Linked DNA regions of Homo sapiens: region 2 is linked to region 1. Evidence: fine-mapped expression QTL. A gene starts in region 1. The other region holds a variant in brackets. All regions are shown on one strand. Distances are from middle to middle. Region 1 holds the start of SCGB2B2 (secretoglobin family 2B member 2). Region 2 has its middle 44 kb from the start of SUNO1.

What was found.
Region 2: its variant is fine-mapped to the expression of SCGB2B2 in subcutaneous fat (FUSION, PIP 0.95).

Annotation. Positions count from the first base shown.
Region 1 is chr19:34,672,505-34,681,235 of GRCh38, reverse strand. SCGB2B2 (secretoglobin family 2B member 2) reads left to right here and starts at 4,077. Exons shown (of 4, transcript NM_001025591.4): 1 at 4,077-5,606. ZNF302 (zinc finger protein 302) reads right to left here and starts at 3,558. Exons shown (of 5, transcript NM_001289187.2): 1 at 3,133-3,558; 2 at 2,423-2,499. The coding sequence starts at 2,431. It also overlaps the pseudogene ZNF807P and the pseudogene SCGB1B2P. RefSeq lists enhancers at 1,433-1,934, 2,792-3,688, 3,820-3,879, 3,930-4,029, 3,689-4,586 and a silencer at 3,310-3,369.
Region 2 is chr19:33,856,691-33,865,421 of GRCh38, reverse strand. No RefSeq gene overlaps it. Among named protein-coding and RNA genes, the nearest start is that of SUNO1, 44 kb to the left of the region's middle. The variant C/T (reference allele first, on the strand shown) is at 3,556.

The DNA.
Region 1 (8,731 bases):
TAATACAGAGTTATTACTGTCTGTGATTTGTAAAACAGACTGCTCTACTGTGGTAATTTTTTAGCTCTGAGAGTTCATTCAGTATTGTATTACTTTATTTGGATATTTTGCATGCATGTTCACCAGTGACATGGATCTTTGGTTTTAAAGGCAGAATTTACTTTTCTCAGGTTTGGAGAAAATAATTAAAATTCGAATCGCCTTCCAATGGCAGAAAATCCTCTCCACAAATGTAGAAAAAAAAAGAAAGCAGTTTTATTACTGAATAAGCTAAATCAGACCTTGATGCACTTCACAAGCGATCCACTATTGAGATGAAAAGGACAGGAAGAAATCTCATCTTTTTATATAGGCAAGCAGATACAATCCAACACACATTTTCCAAATAAACAATAACTTATCCTCAAGTAAGATTTGACAGTTCAATTTGCTACACAAAATTTCTTCTAAATTCACCTGTTAATTGGAGTTGCCACTGTGTTAATTGCCTATATCCCAAATAAAAATAACATTTCTCATATCTTTGACAAACCAGTCATTACAACTTAGAGCCAGGGATGCTTCTTTCTTCCCCTTCAGTTGCCTGGGCAGCTTGAGATGTTCACTCATCTCAGTTCCCAAAAGAACATAGGATATCTATCCTAGCACTTATTTAAATTTCCCATGCTTTCTTACTTTTCTACCAGTGCCACAATCTTCAATACAGGAGCCACTAGCCAACTTGGCTACAACATTTAAATTAATTAAAATGTAAAAATAAAATAATTAAATAAAATTTAAAATTTATTTTCTCCATTGCTTAAGCCACAGTTCAAGTACTCAATAGTCAGATGGGGCTGTTGGCTACCGTACTGATCAGTACACATGCACAGCACTTCCACCACTGCAGAAAGTTCTCTTAGACAATACTGCACTAGATCATGAAGTCCTGTGTGTCAGTGTACACCAAAATCCATGTACAACTCTTCCTAACAGGTACTTCATAAGTGTTTAGAAGATGAACCAATGAATGGTTTTGGCATTAGTTCACTTTAGCCTTTACTTTGTTTTTTCTTTCAAGAGGCAGGTTCTTGCTCTGTCACCAAGCTGGAGTGCAGTGACATAATCATAGCTCACTACAGGCTTACACCAGAGGGCTCAAGAAATCTTCCTACCTCATCAGCCTCCCGAGTAACTGGGACAACAGGCATGCACTACCACACCAGTTTTTCAATTCTAATTATCTTAATTATTCCATGAAAACAGACTTCACCCAAGATGTACATCTGCTACTTACATCCCCTCCTGTGCAAGCTTCACCTTCCATGCCATGATTCTGCCCCACCAGTTCTTCATTACTCATCTTATTCACTCCACAATTACTTACTAAGCATCCATTTGGTGCCAGGTAACACTCTGGGTACTGACGCTATAACAGTCAACAAAGAAGAAAAAGCATTCCTCCCACCAGGAACAGACAATGAGCACGTGCATATACTGAACATACAGTACATCAGCTAGTGAGTGACACACACTGTGGAAAACAACAAAGCAGTGATGGAGGAGTGGAAGCGCTAGGGAAGGTGACTGCAATTGCAAATAGGCTTTCAGGGAAGCTGTTCTGAGAAAGTAACCACGGAACAAACACAGAAGGAGATAAGGATGCAAGCTTGTGCGTATGTGGGGGAAGAATATTCCACGTGGATGGCACAGCAACTGGTGACAGAGGCTGGAGCGCACAGGAATGAGGAGGCAGAGAAGGAAGGTGGGATCAGGGAGGTAATGGCCTAATTGTACAAATAGGTCATTGCAGAAGTGACTCAGTTAGAACCACTGAAAAATTTTAGGTTGCGGAATGACAGGAATTTATATAACAATAGGACCATGGTCACAGCTGTACTGAGAACAGACTGATGAGGGTTAAGGGCAGATGCTGGGAATCCAGCTAGGAGGCTACCGCAATAATCCAGGTGGCTCGGACTGGGGTGGTAGTGGTGGTGGTGGTGATGGGCTAACTAATGGTCAGATGCTGTATACGGTGTATCGTTTAGATCCAAACTAGAGGACCTGAATATGAGTTATAAGTCAAAAGGAAGAATCAAGGATGACTCCAAACATCTCTTCACTTGAGACCACATGGTACAGTTTTGACAACCATAAACCGAATAACCTTACATTCCAAAGTTGCATTGTGAATTACAGTTTTAAAATGTTGGCAATCTAGAAAGTCTTCTAGCAGAAAACTGTAGAAAAGAGGAACACTGGGTGATGAGGACAATACCTTGGAGCTCTCCTGTGGGCTCCATTCTTCCTATAGTGAAAGGAACCATAGATCTAGTCCCTTAAATGGACTTGATTAGGTGGGAACAGGCAGGAGAAGCAAAGCAAACACACAGAGGCCTAATAAAGTGTTTCAGGAAGATTTGGGGACACACCGACTTACCTGAGACATTATTCTGCAATTTCCAATGGCCAACAGAGTCCCCTTTCCAGGTTCTTATCTTAGAGATGGGCAGTGTCCTGAGGGCACAGAAAGGCAGGAAAAAGCAGTCATGAAAAATCGGGCTTATCTTGCGGCACCTGTCACACACCTTAATGGAAAAGCACACTGGTAATCACTCGCCGGAGCGTCAATCTCTCCCTGGGAAGGAACAGGGTGTTTCTCCGCAAGGGCTATTTACCAGGTGCCACCTGCGGGGAAAATCAATTATTCTGTATACAAAAGACTCATAAAACAACGGTAACAACTTTATCAGCTCGTTCAGTCTTCACCACTTTGCAAGGTGTGCATTCATATTATTCCAGATTTTTTTTTTTTTTTTTTTGAGACGGAGTCTCGTTCTGTCTCCAGGCTGGAGTGCAATGGAGCGACCTCGACTCACTGCAACCTCTGCCTCCCGGGTTGAAGCGATTCTCCTACCTCAACCTCTCGAATAGCTGGGATTATAGACACGTGCCACCACGCCCAGCTAATTTTTTTTTGTATTTTTAGTAGAGACGGCGTTTCGCCATGTTCGTTAGGCTGGTGCGGTGGCTTACGCCTTTAATCCCAGCACTTCGGAAGGCGGAGGCGGGCGGATCGCTTGAGGTCGAGTTCTAAACCAGATTTATTTTTTAAAATGAAGACAAAACTGAAATTCCGAGATACTGAACCCATTTGTTCAAGGTTGCACAACTGAAAGCGCCGGCTTCATGACGACATAACCCAAAAAAAACTGTAGCTGGCGTCTGCTCTCGCGCCCACTTCGCTCTCACAACAGTGCCAAGAGGTCGGCGCCGTCATCACCCCGCGTTTACACGGCTCAACAGGAAGGCCAGGAAATGCCCAAGGCCCCGGCCGTGGTCAAACCGCGCGCGGACCCAGGGCCTTAGCCCCGCCGTCGCCGCGACCCACACTTGCCGGAGTCCTCAGCAGGGCCTCACCGTCCCGCAGGCGCCCCGAGCCCGCGCCTCCGCGGACCTGACGCGCCGCGTAGCTGGTGAGCGGGTAACGGCGGCCGACCTCCGGGAACGACACTGCCCCAAACCGTTCCTTAGCTTGGAAGCCGCCGCCAGGCCTGAAGCTATCGCGGGACTGACCCAGTGCACCGCCCACGGCGAACCACATTTCCCAGAATCCTCCCCCTGCGGTACAAATGTCCCGGAAGCCGCGAACCGCCGGCACCCGAAGACCACACTTCCCAAGGGTCTCTGCGGCTGCGCGGACCTGGTGCGCCGCGGGCAAACCGGTCACGGCTTTGTAAGTAGCTTAACCGCCTGGGGCCGTCGACCTAGAGCCGGCCAGCTAGGACCATGCGCAAATTGTCCTGGGGCACACAGTCGTCCTCTGGTGAACGATACAACTCGAAACCAAGGGACACCCTCTACTTATAAGGGCCATGGCGCCCGGACCAAGAAATTACATTTCCCAGAAAACTGCAGCCGTGCCAAGGTCTTCCGGGTCATTCCTGCGCTCACACAAACGTTTCCCTCCGAGACATGGGCAGCCCTTGCTGGTACCGCGCAAGTGCTCGCCGTTGCTAGCAAAGGGGCTCCTCTCATCCCAAACCCTGCCGCTATGCTGTTCACCTTCAGGTCTTTTTTTTTTTTTTTTTTTGGCACTCATTTGCCCAAGACGATAACTCACAAAACGCCCTGTGGCCCGACTGTCACGACTGTAGTTCGCCAACCAAGGGCATTTCCTGGAAATGCAAGGGGACACGTATCTGTGACACTAATGGCCGTTCTGACGTGCGTTACGCCCCTGGAAGGACTTGGAAATACTGAACTTGAGTGAGCACTGGGAGGATGGAGACCCTCATCCTGGGAGGAGTCACTCCTCCCGCAGCCATCACAGCCTGACGCCCCCTCTCCCCAGAAGTGCTTCTTAGGCCCACCCAAAAGGGCAATGGACCTCTCTGTATGCAAGCCAGAGCAGTCTACTGTTTGTGTATATTTGGGTTGTTTACTTTCTTTTTAACACTTAAATGTTAATTGACTTCAATCATTTTTAAAATTATAAATAGTGTCGCTATAGACTTTTTTGTACTTATTAAGTACTGACCTGCATGATCTTCGTGAAGCAGTGCTTCTGTTACCAGAAAGGGGTCCGGATCCGACCCCAAGAGAGAGTTCTTAGAGCTCACGCAAGAAAAAATCCATGGGAGAGCACAGTGCAAAGCCAAAGCAAGTGTATTAAGAAAGTAAAGAAACAATGGGTACTCCATTGTTAGAGCAGCAGCTTGGGCTGCTGGACTAGGGATACTTGTATTTATTGCTTGATGATGTGCTAAACAAGGGTGGATTATTCATGAGTTTTCCAGGAAAGAGGTGGGCAATTTCAATTTCTCGGAGCTGAGGGCTTCCCAGCTTTTTGAACCATACAGGGTAACTTCTGAACCTTACCATGGCATTTGTAAATTGCCATGGCACTGATGAGCGTTTCTCTTAGCGTGCTAATGCATATAATTAGCATATAACCGAGAGGTGAAGCCAGCTGGGCTTCTGGATCAGGTGGGGCCTTGGAGAACTTTTCTGTATAGCTGAAGGATTGTAAATACACCAATCAGTGCTCTGTGTCTAGCTAAAGGTTTGTAAATGCACCAGTCAGCACTCTGTAAAAACGGACCAAACAGCACTCTGTAAAATAGACCAATCAGCGCTCTGTAAAATGGACAAATCAGCAGGATGTGGGCGGGGCCAAATAAGGGAATAAAAACGGGCCACCCGAACAACCAGCGGCAACCGCGCTGGGGTCTACTTCCCAGGTGTGGGATGTTTGTTCTTTTGCTCTTTGGGTCTGCACTACCTTTATGAGCTGCAACACTCACCCTGAAGGTCTGCAGCTTCACTCTTGAAGCCAGCGAGACCACAAACCCACTGGGAGGAACGAACAACTCCAGACACGCCGTCTTTAGGAGCTGTAACACTCACTGTGAAGGTCTGCAGCTTCACTCCTGAAGCCAGCGAAATCATGAACCCACCGGGAGGAACAAACAACTCCAGCACGACTCCAGACGCACCGCCTTTATGAGCTGTAACACACACCGCGAGGGTCTGCAGCTTCACTCCTGAAGCCAGCCAGACCAGGAACCCACCAGAAGGAACCAATTCCGGACACATAACAAGCAGCAGTGAGGACACCAAAGGTCAGTCTCCTCGCCATCTTGATTTTGGTGGGTTTTGGCTGGCTTCTTTACTGCAATTTGTTTAACCAGCAAGGCCTTTATGACCTGACCTGTAGCTTGTGCCGACTTCCAATGTTATCCTGTGACTTAGAATGCCTTAAGTGTCTGGGAAGTAGGTCTCAGCCTCATTTTACCCAGGCCCTATTCAAGATGGAGTCGCTCTGGTTTAAACACCTCTGACAGTTCTACCTTGGTGTATCCTGTGGGTGTGGTTGTGAATTCCTATAGCAGCCACAGTTTTAAAAAACACTGGCATCAGCTGGCTTCCTCTCAAGGCTTAGAGTATGTAATAAGGAAAGACTGGATTGTGCAAAGCATGTTTCCATCTATGATTTTACTATACAATCATGAATTGTTTTCCAAAGTTGTACCAATTTTCACTCCTACCAGAGTTTATGGTTATTTTGCTTGCCAACTCTTACTGCCAACACTCTCTTTGTGAAACTTTAAAAGTTTAATAATCTACTAGGTGTGAAATAGTAACTCACTGTGGCTTAAAGTTGCATTTTTTAATTGTTAATGAGATTGAGAATCTTTTTGAATGTCTATTGGTCTTAGTATTCCCTTCTCTGAGAATTGCAGGTCTTTTGGTCAAGTTCTTTTGGAATGATGACCTTTTTAATATTAAAATGCAAGAGACATAGGAAAAAATGAGGTTTAAGGAGATAGTGAGATAGTGCAGTGACTAGGTTATTAAGATCGTTTCCCACTTAGAATCCTGGGCTTTCAACTGAAATAGTAACTGAATGTGTTTTCTGGAGTTTGGCATAATGTTTCTGGTTATGAAATTCTTAAATTCTTTCCTGCTTGGGATTTGCTGAACAACTTGAATCTGTGATGTGTCATCTCTGGTAATCAGCAAACTCTTCCTCTCCCATATATTGCCTCTTCACCATTGTTTCTCTGCTTTGAGAACCCCAATTCGTTATGAGGCAGGTGTTACCCCTCTATCCTCCAGGTGTCTTAAATTCTCTGTGATTTTCATCCTTCAATCTCTGTGTTGCATTCTGGATAATTTATTCCGATCTATTGCCCATTCATAATTATCTCTCCAGGACATTTTAATTTCAATTTTCCAAACTTTTTTAACATGGTAGGTATAGTTGCTTCATAATATGTATCTGATAATAACAATAACTGAAGATTTTGTGGGCCCGTTTGGATGTTTATTTCCAAATTCTTCAATCAGTTTGCTTTGCTTCCTTTTTTGTTGGTTATCTTTGTCCTTGAAAAGAGATTTCATGTAGCTTTCCCATATCCTTAGATGAAAGTGCCTTTCTCTTCTAGAGATTATATAATTTCCTTTCAGACAAGACCAGGATCCCTGCCACTTTGGAACCACTTTAAACCACACTTAAGACATAAAGTCCCTGCTCAGTCCATCCAGAAAAGCTTACATAGGGATTTTTCATTGTTTCTGCTTTTCCTCATGATCTCACTGGAAGAATTATGGTGGTTTCCCATTATGAGTCCTCAGATATTTGGAATATGAGTTAAGTTCATGAGTGGAGAGAGGGCCAACATTAAAGGACTAGATGTGACTCAGGGCATAGGTGAGAAGAACTTTAAATGGAGGGCTAGTCCTTTTGTTTCAATAGCTATGTCTGGCCATCTCATAAAAAGCATTCCTGTGAAGTTAAACCCCTAACTTGTGAATGCCCCATCGTTAGGGAAGCAGGAGTATAAGAGAGCCAGAGGATGCCATTTTAAGTATAGTTCCATTTTGAGACTAGCAAAGCACATTCCTTGTCGGTCATGGCCCATAGTCATGGGGTGTTTATAGTTGAGGAAACAGCCTAAAGATACCTACAGGGACACTCCTACAACAGTGCAGAGTCCAGATGTCCCAATACCCGTAACAATATATGCTTTGAAGATAATAGCTATGTTTTGATGTACTTACACACTGGAATGTCCAGGTTAGTTTAAATGAATACTGTAATAATTTTTTTTATTCTGCCTGCTCACCCACACATAGACCCAGCTTAGCTTAGTTTTTTCATAGATAAGACCCCTATATAAGAAAAACTTAAAGCCAGTGCATTCCTCCTCTTGTTTTCTGAGGGCCTCCTGCTCACTAATGGTGTAGCTTCTAATAAACTTGCATCTTTCACTGCACTCTGCGACACATCTTAAATTCCTTCCTGAACAAGATCCAAGAACCCTCTTGGGGTCTGGATCGAGACCCCTTTTCCAGTGACACCCTGACTTGCATTGTTAGCAGAAAGGTTAGAGGCACTGGAATAGAGACTGAGGAACAGAAATCAGGGGTGTGAGGTAGAGAGAATCATAGGCATAAGCAAGTCTGATTTAAACAAATATGCCAGACACTTGAGAAAGAAAATGAAGCAGAGAGAGAGAGCAATAAGGAGAAACTAAAACACATTACATGCAATACTCAACCCACTCCCTTCCACTAGCTCTTAGCTGCCTTCTGTCCCTTTCCTATTTAAAATAATGCAGTGTTTACAATCAGTAATTTTTGCTGTTGGGATTTATCTGGTCAAGGGCACATTTTAGAATATGAACTTTGGAGAAGAAAAGCCAGTTTACTCTGATGCAGAAGCTGTTTAAGATTCAGGGTGTGCTATGATGTGAATGTCTGTCCCCCGCCCCCGCCACAGAATTCATATGCTGAAACCGAATCCCCAGTGTGACAATATTAAGAGGTGAGGCCTTTGAGGAAATGTTAAGTTATGAGGCTGGAGTTCTTATGAATGGATTGATGTCCTTATAAAAGAGGCCCAAGCTTGTTTGCTCCTTTTGCCATGTGAGGTTATGGAAGAAGGTGTCGTGTATGAAGGGAGACAAAGTTTCAGGTTTGTGTTTTGGTGGAAGTTTAGGTTCAAATGAGTCCCATATTGATGATTAGGTTTCAACATAGGAATTTTGGGGGGATACAAATATTCAGACCACAGCAAAAGCCATTGGTAGACACATCGGCCCTTGGGACTATGAGGAATTTTAGATTTTAATGAGCTCATTATAAATCCCACTAATTTATCTTGACCAAGGGATAAAGATGGATACCCAGGAATCTCCACAGATAAGACTAGAGCTACACTAGGCCACTATCTTATTACACG
Region 2 (8,731 bases), 820 kb after region 1:
TCCTCTCCTGTAAGATGGGAGGGATGTCGGCACCTCTTCCACAGGGCTCGGGCAAGGACGAGACAATTTATGGGAAGCCCTTAGCATGGTGCCTAGGACACAGATAACATTCGTTGTGCATTATCATTTTTTTTCTTCTGTTTTTAATTTTCAAAGACAGGGTCTCATTCTGTTGCCCAGGCTGGTGTGATCATAGCTCACTGCAGCCTTCAACTCCTGGGCTCAAGTGATCCTCCTGCCTCAGCCTCCTGAGTAGTTGGGAGTACAGGTGTGCACCACCATGCCTGGCTAATTTTTAAAAATTTTTTGTAGATACAGAATCTCACTATGTTGCTCAGGCTGGTTCTGAATTCCTGGGCTCAAGCAATCCTCCTGCATTGTTCTTTGCTTGGGAATCCAGCCTAGTCCAAGCGGACAATGAGTTGTGGAGTGGAGGGAATGACTCTAGAAGGAAAGAGAAGTGTCATTTCTGCATGGACCAGTGCACCAGGATCCTGACTCGTAGGACACCAGAAGGGTCCTAGGCCCTGAATCAAAGTCAGACATTTCAGTTCTATGCTCCAGTGCTGTATCTCTGGTCTCAGTTCTGAATAAACCTGTGTGAGACAGGTCCTTCTAGCTTTTCTCATTTTCAGCAATCAATCCCTCCAAATAATATACATAATTTGATTCAAAATAAGATATGTGACAGGCACACACTTGGGAGAGAATACTGAAATGAACATACTGGTTTTGCTCCCTGCTGGCTTCTTGCCAGTGGGGTGTGGCTGTGAGACAAGCTTCCTAAACTCACCTCATATGCAGCCAGGCGCTCAGGCGAGATCGTAGGTGGTCCTGTGCCCCATCTCAGAGCCCTGCTCCTGGCTCATCCTGGCTTCCACCCTGTAGACAGCATCTCCCCCAACTCCACATGCTTGGATAAACTGCCTTATGTCACCACTGTGTGCCCCAGAGTTTGGGTCTGTATCTGAGGAAGGGAGGGAAAGGAACTGATTAGAAGTCAAAGCCCCCTTGACCAGGTGTGGTGGCTCACACCTGTCATCCCAACACTCTGGGAGGCCATGGTGGGCAGATCACTTGAGGTCAGGGGTTTGAGACCAGCCTGGCCAACATGGCAATACCCTGTCTTCACTAAAAATACCAAAAAAAAAAAAAAAAAAAGGTAGCTGGGTCAGGCGCTGTGGCTTACACCTGTAATCCTAACACTGGGAGGCTGAGGTGGGTGGATCACTTGAGATCAGGAGTTCAAGACCAGCCTGGCCAATATGGTGAAACCTTATCTCTACTAAAAATACAAAAATTTAGCCAGGTATGATGGCATGCACCTGTACCTCAGCCACTCGGGAGGCTGAGGCAGGAGAATCACTTGAACCCAGAAGGTGGAGGTTGCAGTGAGCCGAGATTGCGCCACTGCCCTCCAACCTGGGGACAGAGCGAGACTCTGTCTCAAAAAAAAAAAAAAATTATCCAGGCATGGTGGCGGACACCTGTAGTGCTGGCTACTTGGGAGGCTGAGGCAGGAGAATTGTTTGAACCTGGGAGATGGAGGTTGCAGTGAGCCAAGATCATGCCACTGCACTTCAGCCTGGGCGACAGACTGAGTGAGACTCCATTGCAAAAAAAAAAAAAAAGTCAAACCCCCTCATGCACCAACCCTACCCCAAGCCCATGCCCACTGTGTCCACTGGCCTCCTGCTCTTTGCATCCTTCCCCTGTGGGCAGGTGCAGGGAGCGGGCCATGGACACTACCTTGGGAGTCCCCTGTCCCACCAACACCCCCACCCGCTTGTCCAGGACAGAAGTAGGGTGGGCCCTGGCTTTAGGGTGGGCCCTTAAAGGTGGGTTGGGGTCACCCACAAGGCCCACCCCTACCACCTCCATGAGGCTGAGACTTTGGGGCCGTGACGGAAGCTTTCTTTAGACTCTGTCCTGGGGGTGCACATGTGGATTAAATTAGAGCAATATGTTTTTCAAACAGCATCTTGGCTGAAAAGTCAAGCAGATAAATGGAAACAAACCCAGCTTTATGTGACTGGAAAGGGGCTGGTGGGAGGGCCGCTTCTGCCTGAAGCACCACTGCAGGCCAGGCTCCCCTCCTGGGCTCTCTCCACCCCCACCTCTTCCCCCTCTCCACCCTCCCCCTGCAGCCCTGACCCCCTGGCCTAGCCCAGGAAGGCCTCAGCAGAGGCTCTCCCTGCCACTCCACATCCCCTCTCCAGGCCCCTGCTCCAGCCTGCCTGGCCTCCAGCTGCACCCGTCAGCTGTCAACCTTGCTATGCCTTCTGGTCAGTGTCTTCTCGGAGGTCAGTCTGGCACCACGGTGGAGAAGGCACTTTTGAATCACTGGACAGGTCACATGCTGTTTCCCTGTTAGTCTCCTCATCTGTAATTGAGGATGCTGATGCCTCCTTCAAAGGGCTCCAGCAAGGACTTAGTGAGAAGATTCATGGGAAGCCCTCAGCTGGCCTAGGACACAGATAACATTTGTTGTGCATTCTCTCTCTTTTTTCTTTTTTTAATTTTTAGAGACAGGGTCTCACTCTGTCGCCCAGGCTGGAGTGTAGTGGTGCAATCAGAGCTCACTGCAGCCTCCAACTCCTGGCCTCCAGTGATCCTCCAGCCTCGGCCTCCCAAGTAGCTGGGACTATAGATGCATGCAACCACACCCAGCTAATTTATTTATTTATTGGAGAGAGGGGGTCTTGCTATGTTGCCCAGGCTGGTCTTGAACTCCTGGGCTCAAGCAGTCCTCCTGCCTCAGCCTCCCAATGTGCTGGGGTTACAGGTGTGAGCCATTGTGGGCTTGGCTTCATTTTTTTCAGTCTTACACAAAGTCTAGAAAAGATAATTTTAGAAGATACGTTACCTTTTTATTTGTTTTCAGAGACAGGGTCTCATTTTGTTGCCTAGGCTGGTATTGAACTCCTGGGCTCAAGTGATCCTCCCACCTTGGCCTCCCAAAGTGCTGGGATTACAGGAGTGAGCCACCTCGCCTGGCCCACTGTCTTTATTATTATTGTTATTATTATTACTACTATTACTCGCCATCTCACCTCTTCTCAGCAAACAGCTCACTCCTCCCCACTGACCACCACAGCTGGGGTAACAGCAGGGGCAGAGACAGCAGCTATTGAATGAACACTTGTTGGCAGATTGGCTTGTGATGAGGGTGATGAGGGGTTTTGCTATTGTTAGTAGGAAGGAAGAGCTGGGCATGCTGTCCTACAAAGCGACCTGAATCCATCCCCCCGGGCCCACTCCCAGGTCCTGTGTGTGGAGCTGCTCGCAAGGTCCCCTGGGAAAACTGATATGGCTGCTGCCAGGCATCCATTCAAGATGGCAACTTCCCAGCAGTTCAAATACCTGGTCAGGAACTGGTTAGTCACTAGATGACATAAGAGTCCAGCAGTTGTGATTTAGATTTTTTTAAACCACTTTGTTCTGTAAGCATTTTTGGGGACTTGGACTCAATGAGCCCCTTCCACGTAGGAGGAGAGCATTAGTGAAATCCCTGCTGTTCCAAGAACTTCCTCACTCACTCCAGGGCCCACTGGC[C/T]GCTGTCTCACCAGAAATCCCTCAGCCACGTTGACCACTCACTCACCTGATTCCCCCAAAAGACTGCACTCTTCAAGGAAGGGCAGAAAAGGAGTGGTACCCTGCCTTGTACACCTGCCCTCAGTGCTGGAGTACTTAGCACAGGCCTCCCCTGTGAAAAGTGCTTGGAAAATCTTGAGTGACTGATGGTACTTATAAATGCCAAGTTATTATCGATCATCTTTCTTGTTTAATCTTTTTGTTTGTTTTGAGATAGGGTCTTGCTCTGTTGCCCAGGCTGGAGTGCAGTGGCACGATCTCAGCTCACTGCAGCCTCCGCCTCCCAGGTTCAAGCAATTCTCCCATCCCAGCCTCCCCACTAGCTGGGATTACAGGGGTGCACCACCACACCCAGCTAGTTTTTGCATTTTTAGTAGAGATGGGGTTTCAGCATGTTGGCCAGGCTTGTCTCGAACTCCTGACCTCAGGTGATCCACCCGCCTCAGCCTCCCAAAGTGCTGGGATTACAGATGTGAGCCACTGTGCCTGGCCTTTTTTTTTTTTTTTTTTTGAGATGGAGTCTCGCCCTGTTGCCTAGGCTGGAGTGCAATGGCACAATCTCAGGTCACTGCAATGTCTGCACCCCCCCCCCCCAATGGTTCAAGTGATTTCCGGCTAATTTCTGTATTTTCAGTAGAGACGGAATTTCACCATGTTGACCAGGCTGGTCTCGAACTCCTGACCTCAAGTGATCCGCCCACCTTGGCCACCCAAAGTGCTAGGATTACAGGTGTGAGCCATTGCTCCTGGCCACCTTTGTCATTTAATCTTTACTCTATTAAAGGTTAGTAAAGATTATCTAGTAAAGAGATACAGGAAAGCCCGAGAGGCTGCCTTTTAGATGGTCAGATGGTCAGAAGTTCTGCCCTCATGTTGGCACTGGCAGCTCTGTGCCTGCACCTCCCTCTTCTGGACACACCAACATCTCTTCGAAGTCAGGGACTACATCCAACCCTCTCCCGGCAGCATCCTTCCAGCGTCTAGAATGTGGAAGGCACTGCACATAGATGCTGTGAGTGCATTGGTAGAGAAGAGGGAGTGGGAGACGGAAATTGCTGAGAAAATGGCAATGCAGGTTTATTTCACTCTCCGGATACTGTCACAAAAATCTGGTTGTGGGTGGGATGGGGAAAAAACCAAAGGCCATGTGATAGCCCCTCTGGGCTGTGACCTTCAAGGAGGGTGGCCCTGGAGGGAATAAAGGGCCTTCCTCCCTATCGTCTCTCATTCCCGTCTTGGGCCAGAGAATCCCAGGAGCCAGATCCAACTAAAAGTCAGAGGCAAGGGAGACATTGATGCAGTCCACATGGGCCAGCCTTGAGGGCGGATATGAAAGGCACAGGAAACACTTGGGCTTCCAAGGGAAGGCAGGGAAGTGGTTCTCTTTTCTCAGCAGGTTTCTCTGATCTGTACCAAGGGGGCTTCATACAGCTTTGTTGATCCTCTCCAGCTCAGATACCAATGGATTCTCAATTCCCCCACCGAAGACAAGCAAAGGCAGGCTCAGATAGAAATACGGTAAGAGGCCGGGTGCAGTGGCTCAAGCCTGTAATCCCAACACTTTGGGAGGCCAAGGTGGGCAGATCACTTGAGCTCGGGAGTTCAAGACCAGCCTGGCCAATATGGTGAAACCCCATCTCTACTAAAAATACAAAAAAATTAGCCGGGTGTGGTGGCGGGCACCTATAATCCCAGCTACTTGGGAGGCTGAGGCAGGAGAATCGCTTGAGGGGTTGCAGTGAGCCAAGATCACGCCACTGCACTCCAGCCTGGGCAAACAGAGCAAGACTGCATCTAAAAAGAAAAAAAGAAAAAGAAAGAAATGTGGTTAGAGGCAGACCTCGGACACATCCATCCATCCCCCACCTTCCTACAACCAAATCTCAGAAGGGAGATCAGAAGTCATGGCCAGGCATGGTGGCTGTTCCTACAATCCCAAGGCCTTGGGAGGCCAAGCAAGGCAGGAAGATCGTTTGAGGCTGAGTGTTAGAGACTAGCCTGGGCAACACAGCAAAACCCCCTCTCTACAAAAAATAAAGAAATTAGCCATGGTGGTGCACACCTGTAGTCCCAGCTTCTTGGGAGGCCAAGGTGGGAGGATCACTTGAGCCCAGGAGTTGGAGGCTTCAGTGAGCTGTGATCGTGCCACTGCACTCCAGTCTGGGTGATAGAGCGAGACCCTCTCTCTAAATAAAATAAAATCAAGCAGGGCTCCATCTCCAAACTGATTTGGGTTTGTTGAGGTTAGAGTGCATGGGAAGGAGAAAATAGATTTCTTTTTTGGGATAAAAGGTTACGACCTACAAGCTACTCAAACACCTGTTCTTTAGAAAACAATGGGCAGGTGGAAAGTTAGGAAGTCAGTTTCTTTGGGGGGTCTTTTTTTTTTTTTTTAAAATAAGGATTTGATGCTGGAGTCTTCAGAATCTGAGTTTATATTAAAAATGTGGAAGTGCCAAACCTCAAAGCAAGTCTGTGGAGCCAAAGTGAGTGGGATGGTAGCAGAGAAGAAAGACGCAGGGGAGGCTGTGATGCGGCACAGAGCTGGAGGCCCTGTGGGCTCGCTCATCTCGCATTCTGCACCGCGCAGGTGGTGTGGGATCGCAGCGCTTGCGAGCGCCTGTTCATAGCTTATTGCCACGGGGGAGGCGCGCGGGCAGCAGCAGCCCAGGCGTTCAAAAGACCTGCATCGCTGTCAGAGAGCCGGGGATTGGGTCTCTGTAGAGACACCCCAGAGTCTGGGAAACTCCTTATTTGCAGGCAGTTTTCAGCTGTCCACTTGCTCCAACACTGCCCCCTTTTATGGGGCTGCAGTGGGAACCCTTTCTTAGGGTCCTGCTGAGCACCTCTCTTTCTGGGCGGTATATATCCTTCTGTAGCGCATTCCCTCTCTTGCTATACGGCTCTCTCTCATATATATATATATATATATATATATATATATATATATATATATATATATCTCACCGTGTTCATACATATAGATCTAGATCTAGTTTATTCATTTTGATTCTTCGATAGTATTCCATTGCATAGCTATACTTTTTTTTTTTTTTTTTTTACCTATTGCTCAATTATTAGAAATTTAGGATATTCCCACTTCGGGGCTAACAATGCAAGCCTGGGCAACACCATGAGACCCCGTCTCTACAAAAAATATCCAGGCATGGTGGAGCATGCCTGTAGTCCCAGCTACTCAGGATGCTGAGGTGGGAGGATCACTGAGCCCAGGAGGTCAAGACTGCAGTGAGCCGTGATCACGCCACTGCACTGTAGCCCTGCGCGACAGAACGAGATCCGTGTCAAAAAACAAAGTAAAGGCAAAAAAACAAGGCAGTGCTCAACACATGTTGAGCACCTAACCTGGTGCACATAACCTTGAGCATTGCAGGGCAGATAGCTAAATGAAGAAATGTCAGGTGATGTGGGGATGTGCATCTTCAAATTCCCTAGCTCTTGCCAAATTCCTCATCAATTTGTTCTCTGAAGATACACTACCATTAGGAACACAAAACGGATCCCATTTCCCCACATCCCTGCCCACAGTCTGTTATCTGACGATCACATTTTGCCATTTCTAATTTCTATTTTCCTGGTTGAGAGTGAGTTGACATCTTCTCACATGCTTGTGGATGATTTGATTTTTTCACTTATGATTTGCCCAGTGATATCCCAGCCATTTTTCATTAGATTGTATTTTTCTGATTGCTTCATAATAGTTTATAAAATATTCTGGATACCAATCTTTTGTTGTTGTTGTTACATGGGTTGTAAATATCCTCTCCCAGTCTGTCGGAGTTTTTTTTGTTGTTGTTGTTGTTTTTGTTTTTTAAGACAAAGCCTCGCTCTGTCGCCTCCCAGGTACAAGCAATTCTCCTGTCTCAGCCTCCGGAGTAGCTGGGATTACAGGTGCCCACCAACCACGCCTGGCTAATTTTTGTATTTTTAGTAGAGATGGGGTTTCACCATGTTGGCCAGGGTGGTCTTGAACTTCTGACCTCAGGTGATCCACCTGCCTTGATCTCCCAAAGTGCTGAGATTATAGGTGTGAGCCACCGTGCCCAGCCTGTGGGTTGTTTTTTAATATTGAGGTTGGTGTCTTCTGATATGCAGAAGTTGTAAATTTTAATGTAGTAGAATTCTCTTTGTCTTTTGTGGTTTATAGTTTTTATATCTTATTCAAAAAGAACTTTCTCTACCCCCAATGGCATAAAAATATTTTTTCTTTCTTTTTTCTTTAATTCCAACTTATTGAGGCATAATTTTTACAAAATAAAATGCACCCATGCATTTTGACAAATGTATACAACCATGTAACCACCCTCCACCCAAAAAAGACATAGAACGTTTCCACACCTATAGCTGCTTTCCTGCTCCTGCCTAGTAGATAACCTGCCTTCCTAGCCCCTGCTCTAGGCAGTGACCAATCTGCTTTTTGTCACTATTTCTATTTCATATCAACAGAATAGTACAGCACATACTCTTGTATCTGGCTTCTTTTGCCCGGCATCATGCTGCTTTTTTTTTTTTTTTTTTTAGTTCTAGGGTACATGTGCAGGTTTGTTACATGGTAAACCTGTACCATGTTTACCTACATGGTTTGCCACGGTGGTTTGCTGCACCCAGCATCATACTTTTGAGGCATCATTTTGTTTTGTTTTTTTGATTTTTGAGATGGAGTCTTGTTCTGTTGCCCAGGCTGGAGTGCAGTATTGTGATCTCAGCTCACTGCAACCTCTGCTTCCTGGGTTCAAGTAATTCTCCTGCCTCAGCCTCCCGAGTAGCTAAGATTACAGGTATGCACCACCATGCCTGGCTCATTTTTTTTGTTTGTTTTTTGTTTTTTTAGTAGAGATGGGGTTTTTGCCAAGTTGGCCAGGCTGGTCTCGAACTCCTGGCCTCAAGTGATCCGCCCACCCCGGCCTCCCAAAGTGCTGGGATTACAGGCATGAGCCACCTCTGCTGGCTGAGGCATCATTTTGAGAGATCACTTATGCTTTTGAGAATCAGCCATGCCATTGCACATACCAGCAGTTTATCCTCTTTTGTGCTGAATAGTGTTCTGTTGTATGGATACACCACAATTTGTGTTTTCACTTATCTGTCGTTTGGATTGTTTCCAGTTTTTGGTTTTTAT